Regions from separate parts of the Homo sapiens genome. Here region 2 is linked to region 1. The links come from fine-mapping of genetic effects on gene expression. A gene starts in region 1. The other region holds a variant in brackets. All regions are shown on one strand. Distances are between the middles of the regions.

Region 1 (5,371 bases):
AACTTTTCTATCTTCTATTGGATTTGCAAAGTATTCCAAGTCTTAACTGGGTAATTTATTACAATATGTATTCTCTCTAGAGGTAGACTGCGCTATGACTTGTAGCATGGAGAGATGGACTTGAAAATTATCTGAAAGCAATAGTTATGTTTGTATATGTTCTATGTTCTATGGTTTTTAGGGGACTACAGTAATTACATATGTTTCATATCTCTTTCACTTAGCTTCCAGAGCAGTCTCCCGTTTTCTTTAGTAATTTTAGCAATTGAATTGCTGCCTCCCTGCCCACTGCTGTCATGCCCAGTGGTGCCGGTGTGATGACTTTTCTAACACCCTTGTCTTTGAACTTCTTAATGCCAGTGAACGCTTTCATCCTGCTTCAGTCATGTGGTGCCCGTGTGATGACTTTTCTAACACCCTTGGCTTTGAATTTGTCAATGCCAGTGAATGTTTTCATCCTGCTTCAGTCATGTACGTCACAGCCACAACTTGCGCCTGAACATCATTAGCAACCTCTCTAGCTTCAAGATCTCAAACCTCAAAATTAGCCTCCCAACCCCTCATAACCTACGTGGAGAGTCCTCACTCTCCACTTGGAAGTTGTCAATATTTTTGCTTTAAAATGTTATCAGGCAGGCCAGGCGCTGTGGCTCACACCTGTAATCCCAGCACTTTGGGAGGCTGACGCGGGCGGATCACCTGAGGTCAGGAATTCGAGACCAGCCTGGCCAACATGGTGAAACCCCGTCTCTACTAAAAATACAAAAATTAGCTAGGCTTGGTGGTGCGCGCCTGTAATCCCAGCTATGTGGGAAGCTGAAGAAGGAGAATCACTTGAACCTGGGAAGCAGAGGTTGCAGTGAGCCAAGATCACACCACTGCACTCCAGCCTGGGGGACAAAGCGAAACTCCGTCTCAAAAAAAAAAAATTTGTTACCAGGGGCTGGGTGTGGTGGCTCATATCCCGGCATTTTGGCAGACTGAGGTGGGAGGATCACTTGAGCCCAGGAGTTTGAGACCTGCCTGAGCAAAAGAGTGAGACCTCTCCCAGCACTTTGGGAGGCCGAGGCGGGCGGATCATGAGGTCGGGAGATCGAGACCATCCTGGCTAACACGGTGAAACCCCGTCTCTACTAAAAAAAATAATAATAATACAAAAAATTAGCTGGGTGTGGTGGCAGGCACCTGTAGTCCCAGCTACTTGGGAGGCTGAGGCGGAGAATGGTGTGAACCCGGGAGGCGGAGCTTGCAGAGAGCCAAGATCGCACCACTGCACTCCAGCCTGGGCAACAGAGCGAGAGTCTGTCTCCAAAAAAAAAAAAAAAAAAAAAAAAAAAAAAAAAAGTGAAACCTCATCTCTATAAACAATTTTTTTAAATTAGCAGGGGATGATTGTGCATGCCTGTGGTGCCAGCTACTTGGAAGGCTGTGGTGGGAGGATCCCTTGAGCTCAGGAATTCCAGGCTGCAGTGATTGCACCACTGCACTCAGACCCTGTCTCTAAAAAACAAAATTTAAATCAAGTCACTCACTTGTTCAAAAATGTGCAGTGAGGCCAGGCTCAGTGGCTCACACCTGTAATCCCAGCACTTTGGGAGGCCAAGGTGGGAGACCTGTTTGATTCCATACCAAATAATTGAGACCACCCTGGGCAACATAGTGAGACCTAGGTCTCTACAAAAAATTTAAAAATTAGCCAGGTGTGTGCCTGTAGTCTCAGCTACTCAGGAGGCTTAGGTGGGAGGATTGCTTGAGCCTAGGAGGTCGAGGCTGCAGTGAGCTGTGATCGCACCACTGCACTCAAGCCTTCGCAACAGACCAAGACCTAGTCTCAAAAAAAAAAAAAAGTGCGCAATGACTCCCGTTGCCAATTCAAAGAGCTTTTATGAATGTTTCAATATACTTGTCTAGCGTATGTGCCTGTTTTTGGACTCAAAGTGGCCACCATAGGTGGGAGATCAAGTTGGCAACAATAGTGTTCCAAGGTAATACACCCTATATCTTGCTCTGTACCCCAGGCTGGAGTGCGGTGGCTCAATCTTGGCTTGCTGCAACAACCGCCTCCCAAGTTCAAGCGATTCTCCTGCCTCAGCCTCCCGAATAGCTGGAACTACAGGCGCGCGCCACCACGCCCGGCTAATTTTTTGTACCCCTTAGTAGAGACGGGGTTTCACCCTGTTAGCCAGGATGGTCTCAATCTCCTGACCTCGTGATCTGCCCGCCTCGGCCGCCCAAAGTGCTGGGATTACAGGCGTGAGCCACCGCGCCCGGCAAGAATTTTTTTTTTTTTTTTGAGATGGAGTTTCGCTCTTTCGCCCAGACTGGAGTTCAGTGGCACGATCTCTGCTCACTGCAACCTCCGCCTTCCGGTTTCAAGCGATTCTCCTGCCTCAGCCTCCCAAGCCCGGCTACTTTTTGTATTTTTAGTACAGACGGGGGTTTCATCATGTTGGCCAGGCTGGTCTCGAACTCCTGACCTTGTGATCCGCCCGCCGCGGCCTCCCAAAGTGCTGGGATTACAGGCGTGAGCCACCGTGCCCGGCCCCAAGAATTTTTTTTAATAAGAAATTTTGTAGAACCTTCTATAGGCAGTCGTTTTACAGCGGCGAAGAACGGAACCCGGCAGATGACATTGAATAAATGTTGAGTGGACAACTTTGTTCTTTTCCTCTTCCTTGACTCCGCCTCCTTGCTTTCCCTTCATTCTCTTTTGCTCTTGTGCTTTTAAACCCAAAGCGGCCGCCGTAGGCGAAGGTGAAGATGGCTGCCTCTGCCTTTGCTGGTGCAGTGAGAGCAGCTTCAGGTCAGTGGAGAGCGACATACTCCATGCATGCCTTCACAGAAGGGGAAACTGGTGCGGGATGGAATGGGCGTTTAGACTGGAGGTTAACAAGCAAAAAGGGTCATTATTTAAGTTAAGAAGGTTGCGCCCAATTTTCTCTGGGGCGGTGTGACCGGCAGCCCGTACCAAGTCCCCCGACTCGGACTCACGCGGGCCTGTGTGTCACGCATTTGCCGCTTCCTTACCAGCTTTTTTTCCCTAGAAAAGAAGCCAGAGAAACTGGAACGGAGGGGGCGAGGGAAACCAAAAAGTCTCACCTAACTTTCTGATTTAGAGGCTACGACCTGCCATTCACGACCTTTAACCTTGAGAATTAATGTCTCCTAACTTAAGATTCTACACCTCTAAAATGGGGGTCATAACCACCTACCTGGGGATTAAATGAGATAATGCACGTAAAGCGTTTTGGGCAGTGCCTGACACATGGTAAGCTTGAAGGCTAATTTAATTTTTAACTACAGCCCCCGGCACAAGGGCTGGTATGAGGACTTCTTGACTGAGAGATAGCAGAAGTAAAGGCGACTAAATTAAGTTGCCGTGACGTTAAGTACTTTTTGCAAAAAGTTAAAAATCATCCAAATACCATAGGATGCTCAGTAAGTTACTTTCACACAAAATATATTGTTAGGATAACATTTTGTGGGAGAATATACGAGATCAGTCAAGAAAATGCAGCGATGTAAATTTTACCGTTAGAGAAAAGCTTTTTTTATGTGGAGTATTTTTTGTGTTCGCGAAATATAATACATATGAAGAAAATTTTATATAGTATGCATGAATGATTTAACAGTTCTAAAGCAAACACCTGTTTAACACTCAGGTCAAAACAGTGCACTACCAGAAGCCTCCTCTCCCCTATGTATCAAAATTCTCTACTTCCCCCCCAGATATAAACACTGTTCTCATTTTTATAGTTACTATTAGGTTGCCTATTTTTCCTATAGTAGTTTTAGCATCCATATGTGCATCTCAAGAACATAGTTTTGCCTGGTTTTGAACTTCACATGAATTGGTTCATACAGTATATACGCTTTAGTATCTTCTTTTACATTGTGAGATTCATTCATTCATTTTGCGTAGCTGTAATGCTTTCTCATTGCTATATAATTCTTTTTTTTTTTTTGAGACGGAGTTTCTCTCTTGTTGCCCAGGCTGGAGTGCAATGGCACGATCTGGGCTCACTGCAACCTCCTCCTCCCAGGTTTAAGTGATTCCCTTGGAGTAGCTGGGATTACAGGCATGCGCCACCACGCCCAGCTAATTTTGTATTTTTAGTAGAGTTGGGGTTTCTCCATGTTGGTCAGGCTAGTCTGGAACTCCTGACCTCAGGTGATCCGCCCGCCTCGACCTCCCAAAGTGCTGGGATTACGGGTGTGAGCCACCCTGCCCGGCCTGCTGTATAATATTATATGACTGTGCCACAATTCTCCATTTCCAGTTTGGGGCAATTATGTACAAAGCTGATTGATCTCATCCTGGCGCATGAGTCCAATTGTTTCTGAGGATGTGGGTATGTGTGAAAATCGCTGTGGAATTGCCTGGTCAGAGAATATGTATATATTCAGCATTGCCTGATATTGCCAAACTGTTGAGGCCCCACATCCTCACCAACACCTGATATTGATATTGTCAATAGATATTGTCAGACCTACAAATTTTTGTTAATCTGGTGGCTTTGTAATGGTATCTCATTGAGATTTAAATAAGCATTTCTCTGATTAATAACAAGCTATAGTGTGTTTCACATTTTTATTGGCCTTTTGAATTTCCTTTATGAAATATCCACTTAAATATTTTGCCCATTTTCCTATTGGATTGTTTGTCTTATTTATTTAGAGTATTTTTTGTTTTGTTTTTGTTTTTCATTTGTGTGTGTCCTTTAGCTTCTCCCACTCAGGCTTGTCTTTTTTACATTATTTTGGAGTGCCCTTTGACGAAAAGTTGTTTTTCATCTACTTGAATTTATAGTTCTTGTAATTTTTAAATAGATGATGTAGGTAGTTATCAACTTACTATTAATTTAGATTCTACTGAAAACAATTTAAAGAGTGATGTGACAGCTTATTTTAAAATGTCAGTATTTTAAATATGCTGGAAATTATAGCCTTTTTAACAATTTAAACTATTTGATATTTTAGATATTAAGAATTTGTGAAAGGGTAGTTTTTCAAAATTCTTTTAGGAAACATAGGATCAGAAATCTTGAAGACTCCTGGTTTCGATACTGTCACAGTCTCCTCCACTCCCATCCAGTGCAGTTCATGTCCCCCATTCATTCCTTTGATTCATGCCACATAGGGCCATTGTAATTCCCCAAATGTACATCGTCACCTTTGTACGTCCTATTCCCTCTGTCTCTTCGTACTCTGTCAAAACTCTGGTTTTGCGTTACCTCTTTTGTGAAAACATCTGTATTCTCTATACAACAGTGTGTTTAGAGTAGACTAGTCTGTATGAAAATGCCCAGACGGGGCAGAGGACTGAAGGAAATTAGTTACTTTCCTTGATGTACTGCACTTTTGTTAACAA
Region 2 (5,376 bases), 22 kb after region 1:
GAGCAAGGCCCAGGAGGCTCCAGGCTCAGCCCTCCTGCTGCCAGAACTCCATCCACATCCTACAACTGAAAATAGCATATATGTCAAGGGTATTGGTTTTGGTAACCCTAAAGGGCTATACCCCTTCACTAACATTTCATGAATAGCTACTTTATACCAGGCACTATATGCTGTGTCTTGGAGATACAGCGATGAACAAGCCTTGTTCTTATTTATAAAAACTTTTCAAATAACACATTCTGAGTTTTCTTCCCCCAAAACAGTCAATTTGGGTTGTTTTTCACTTGTACGTCAACTTAGAGTGGTAGTTGTTAATACCTGGAAAAACCAAAACAAAACAATAAAGACCTAGATACTTTACCACTCTCCTATTTGTTTTTCTTTTCTTTTTTTTTTTTTTTTTGAGAAGGAGTCTCGCTGTGTCATCCCGGCTGGAGTGCAGCAGTGCAGTCTCACTGCAACCTCCTCCTCCTGGGTTCAAGCGAGTCTCCTGCCTCAGTTTCCCAAGCAGCTGGGACTACAGGTGCGCGCCACTACACCCGGCTAATTTTTGTATTTTCAGTAGATAAGGGGTTTTGCCATGTTGGCCAGGCTGGTCTCGAACTCCTGACCTCAGGTGATCCACCTGCCTCGGCCTCCCAAAGTGCTGGGATTACAGGCATAAGCCACTGCACCCGGCTCACGCTCCTATTTCTAAATGAAATTAATAGGATTTCCTCTCCTTGGCAAGTAGCTGGATGCTATCCAGTGACTGGTTCTGCTTGTTTGATGGAAGGAGATCTTTCCACCCCAGGTATTGAGGAGATGTTGGTGCCCCAAGAGATGCTGCTCCCAGGACCCCCAATCTCCAGGGCATAGCCTTTGGACAAACACACTCCAACCCACAGCCCCAGACACTGTGTACCTCCAGGGGCAATTCCATCCTTCGAGGTGCTTTATACTTGTACATGAAATCCAGCAGGTCTTCCTCCTCGTCGTCAGAAAACGCCAATGGGTTTTGGACCTGGTGGGGCTCCCATGCCTTCATACCACCCTCATTCACATCTCCCTCAACCACTTAATGTCCATTTACAATCTACACAGATGAGACAAGGTATAGCAAGGAAGCATCAGTGCAGGGAGCAGGGAAGGGCAAGGTTAGGCACACAGCACAGCAAACCAGGCCTGTGAGGACAGCTGAGGCCCCTCGGTCTGAGGAAGCACTGATGTTTTGGGGGCCTCCTTACAGGGGATCTGGGATTGTGAAAGTGCAGTTGTGTGAATCTCCAGGCACTGTGCACAGAAACAACCACAGACTCAGAATCTACTGAATTCTGAGTAATTCAGTAGATTTACTAAGGGGGCATCACTTCCCTGGGTGAAGAAAGAAGCGGCTTTAACTGAGACACATCAATCCCTGCAGCTCAGTCCTGTGATCCCACACCAGGTGAATGCTCAGGGAAAGAATCTCCTCTAGAGAGGATGGCAGCAGTGATGTGGGGTGGGGTGGGAGAGCAGTTTCTATGTTGTACATACAAGCCATGTTGACATTGTATATTATACTTGCATATTCAATTCCAAGCATCCTGTAAGAGACAGGATATAAAATGCCAGGAGGCCTTAAGTGATAACCTTAAACAAAGCTATATAGTTTTTTTGTTTGTTTTTTTTTTTGCGAAGGCCCAGTCCTAGAGAAGCAGAGAAACCTAAGGAAGGAGAATCTGACAGATGCCTCTGCCAAAAAAAATGATAGCAAGATTCCTGTTTCAGTCTGCCTTGAATACATCTGCGGGAAAAGCTTCAGAATTAATTCATCTCATTGAACGCACAGTATTTTTTAAATGTTAAATGCTAATACATATTCCATGTCATCTGCTAGGCGGTTCTTAGTTGAGATGTAAAATATCTTCTGCCCCTACCCAGCTTATCTGGTATCACACACACACATTTTTCTATGCTGCATCTATTGTTTTTACCTAGAATCACAGAATGCAAGACTAAGGGGTTCTCAAGTCATCTGGTCCAATCACCGTGAGGCCTCCAGATAGAAACCACAGCTCTTCTTGAGACACCCTGCTCCTAAGAACATATTCAGCCACCGAATGTGCTCTCTCTCCATCAACAGTGGACTTGCTAGACTATACCACCACCAGGCGTGGAGTAAAAAAACAGACAACTGAACCCTAATCTTGGGCAGCTTTACCAGTTACCACTGCTGTGCTCCCCAACAGCCAGCAGGA[A/G]GCAGCACAACATGCAAAGCTGAATTTTAGGCTGGGGTGTGATTGGTTCAGACTGGGCCTTAGTAAGTAAAGTCCTGAGATCACTGATGTTCCTTTGATTTTTAAATTACTATTATTATTTTATTTCTACTCTGCACTTCCCTCAGCTTATTTACTCTGGGCTTAGTTTGTCCTCTGCTCCCTTCCTCTGTCCTAATCAGCTGCATCCTGTTGAGCACAAAGACCAGTGACTCCAGGGAGCCCTCGCTGAATACTCTGACCCTCCCTGGCCTCCCCACTCTGAGACCCGACAGTGCTTGGAGGCTGTGCCACACAGCTTGTGTTGGGTGCCCTGGTCCTCATGTCAGTCTCATTGCCTCAGCCAACAGAAGGCATCCTGAGACTGGGGGGCCATGGCTGATCCTCCCTCAGTCTCTCTGAGCACCTGACCCAGGGCTGGGCACACAGTGGCCACTCATCAACTAAACTAAATAGAATCCTGAAGTCATCTCAGAGAGCTCAGCTCTAGTCCCAAGTCAGAGCTTGACACCCCCATTAACCAAACCAGGAAATTCCTTCTGGACACAGATACCTCCTGCCTGGCAGGAGGGAAAAAAGACCAAAAGCCCTCAGACCAAGGCAAAAACTGCAGAAGCAGCCTGGCCAGCTCCACCCCAGCAGCCAACTCCATGACATGGAAGTGGGGTGGGTACCGGTTCGAGACTGTGCCTCTGCATATGCTGTACCCTCCACATCCAGGTCCAGGGCTTTCCCTGTACTGATGGTTGTGGGTGTCAGAAGGTGGCCCAAAGTCACCGTGAGATCCTCAGGCATCTAACAACCCAGGCTAGTTATCCAGTCTGGATTCACTGAGGCTGAGCAATGAACTCACACTTACCAAAATCACCATCATCACTATAATCTCAGGACTGAAACCAAAATGGCTTTGTGCATGTTCTCCACTGCAAGGATTGCAGGGTAGAAAAGAAATGACCCTCCAGCCCAGTAGGAGTGATGGTTCAAGGACAACCCAGATATCCAAGCAGGAATAGAAACAAGTGCTCAGCTCAGCAGAGGCTGGGAGCAAAAGAGGCCAGTGTGGGCAGTGAGGGAGCCAGAATAGCCTCAGGAAGAAGCTACAGAGAGAACCTCCTAAGAAGATAAGACATCTCCTAGTCACTGTGTCCGCTGAGCATTTCTGCCAAGAGTGTTGTCTATAATATTTGCCTTACTCTCAGAACCAGTGAGAATAAACATTCTAAATAAGACAAGCTTCCACGCCTCTAGCTGGCTGTTGCACAGTGGACTGAATCTCTTAATAATTGTATTTCCCTCTTTGCAGTGGTTTCAAGGAAGCCAGGTGTCTCAACAGTCTACACCTTGATGGTATGCATTTAAAATGTCCTTCTCCCCACTGATTCCATCTTACTTGCCCACTCCCTTCTCCCCATGCTTCAATTTTCTTACTTTGATTTGCTACTTTAGATATATTTCCACAAGTAGACCTAACTCCTTTTTATATCAGGAAGGAGTATAAATGGAGAAATGAACCCCACAGAACATAGTCCCAAAAGAGGGGCACCAGGAGGAGCAGGAGAGTGAGTAGCTGGGTAGAAAATCCCATGCTCTGCCTCCTCCATGTTCTTGTCCCTGAAGATCTAAAGATTGGTGACCCAACAGGTCCTTACCCCTGGCAACAGGCCTGAAAGAGTATTGCTATCCACATCTTAGTACTCTAATTGGCTCCCAGAGACAATGTGTGTGGGAGGAGGGTCTCCCGCCCAAGGTCATGGCCATAACAACTTGCAAACCTCAGGTGATGGTGGCCACGGCCTTGAGCCTGCAGAGCTGCCACTATGATGCCCAAAGCTGGGTTGCTTCTAGGAAAGGGCAGGGTTTCTGCCGTCTTCCACAGCAGGGGAATGGGTGTGTGGCCTTGGCTGATGTTTCTGTATTAGCAAATGTGTCAGCAGGGCTACAGCAGCCAGGGCTGCAGGCTCCACCTCTTCTCTCTGTGGGGAAGGGAGGGAGGGAGAAACTGGCAGAGCCTCTCAGCCCTTTAAAGGCCTGTGTAGCCTGCAGTGGGCCCAGGGCTGCCGCACCCCTGCAGTGCAGCAGAACCTCCCCCAGGTTAGCAAAAACATCCCACACAGCACACATTAGCGGGAGCATTAATGGAAGGCAGCAAATGTCTGCAGAAGAGCACGCCTGTCTGGAACACTTACATCCACGTCCCCAACAGCACCGAGGAGAGAGAAAAGAACATTCCGTTAGAGAAGGGTCTTTGGCACTAAAACTCACACGTGTGCACCATGCACACATCCCCATCCACACACACTCACACACAGACACACTCACATACACACATGTAGACACACACATGCTCACTCACTTCCCATGCTCTAAACCTCAGGCAGCTCCTCCTGCTATAATCAGAAGGACACTGCCCAGAGGCCACACTCAAAATGCAATTCTCTCTCTCTCTCTCTCTCTCTCTCTGAGAGGACAAAAAGGATGACTGCTTTTAAAAATTATGTCCTACATGCTTGATTTTAAAAGGGGGGGAGGGACACCTCTATGACTAACCACACAGGCAGTAATCCAGAGTTCAGTTCTATATGACATAGAGGTAGGCAGAGAAAAAAAAAAAGAGAGAGAGAGATAATAATAGACACACAGAAAAAGAGAGACAAAGACATGCAGAAAACAATAGGGAATCAGTTGACAAATGGGGCAGGAACAGAGCAAAGATGGGAAAAGAATGTTCTGGCATCTGAGATGTGCAGCTTAGAATAGAGGCTGCTGCCCCTGGGGCCTCTAAGCTCTGTCACTGCCCTAAAAGGCACTTAGCAGCCTCCGAAATGCCTCCTTTCCCTACCCCCATCATGAATTAAGACCTGAATTTACAACTCCTAGAAAATGTTCCTGTCTGCTGAGGGATCCTGGGGCTCTGCATGGCCCCAGAGGTAATTTGAATCTTCCCAGGCTTTGGCCTGAGTGAGCACCCCTTGTGACAACATTTCAGGGGACCAGGAGGAAAGTGTCCCCGACAACTGTGAAATCCTCTTACTGCTTAAGAGTCAGCCTATAGCCCCAGGTGCAAGACAGACCTCCCCCAACACCATCTGCCACCACTGCACAATCCAGTAGAGACTGTCAGAGCTGGGAGGACCAAGGG

Which allele goes with the higher level. Alleles are on the strand shown, and positions count from the first base shown. SD is a standard deviation of normalised expression in the study named.
In carriers of allele G in region 2, the expression in esophagus muscle of the gene that starts at base 2,727 in region 1 tends to be lower than with A alone (moderate effect, 0.63 SD a copy in GTEx).

Evidence for each region.
Region 2: its variant is fine-mapped to the expression of MRPL35 in esophagus muscle (GTEx, PIP above 0.99). The same link has a PIP of 0.9 or more in coronary artery, gastroesophageal junction, testis and tibial artery.

Annotation. Positions count from the first base shown.
Region 1 is chr2:86,196,731-86,202,101 of GRCh38, forward strand. MRPL35 (mitochondrial ribosomal protein L35) reads left to right here and starts at 2,727. Exons shown (of 4, transcript NM_016622.4): 1 at 2,727-2,803. The coding sequence starts at 2,761. RefSeq lists an enhancer at 2,546-2,815.
Region 2 is chr2:86,219,066-86,224,441 of GRCh38, forward strand. It overlaps REEP1 (receptor accessory protein 1), which reads right to left. Exons shown (of 9, transcript NM_001371279.1): 8 at 905-1,056. Among named protein-coding and RNA genes, the nearest start is that of MRPL35, 22 kb to the left of the region's middle. The variant A/G (reference allele first, on the strand shown) is at 2,220.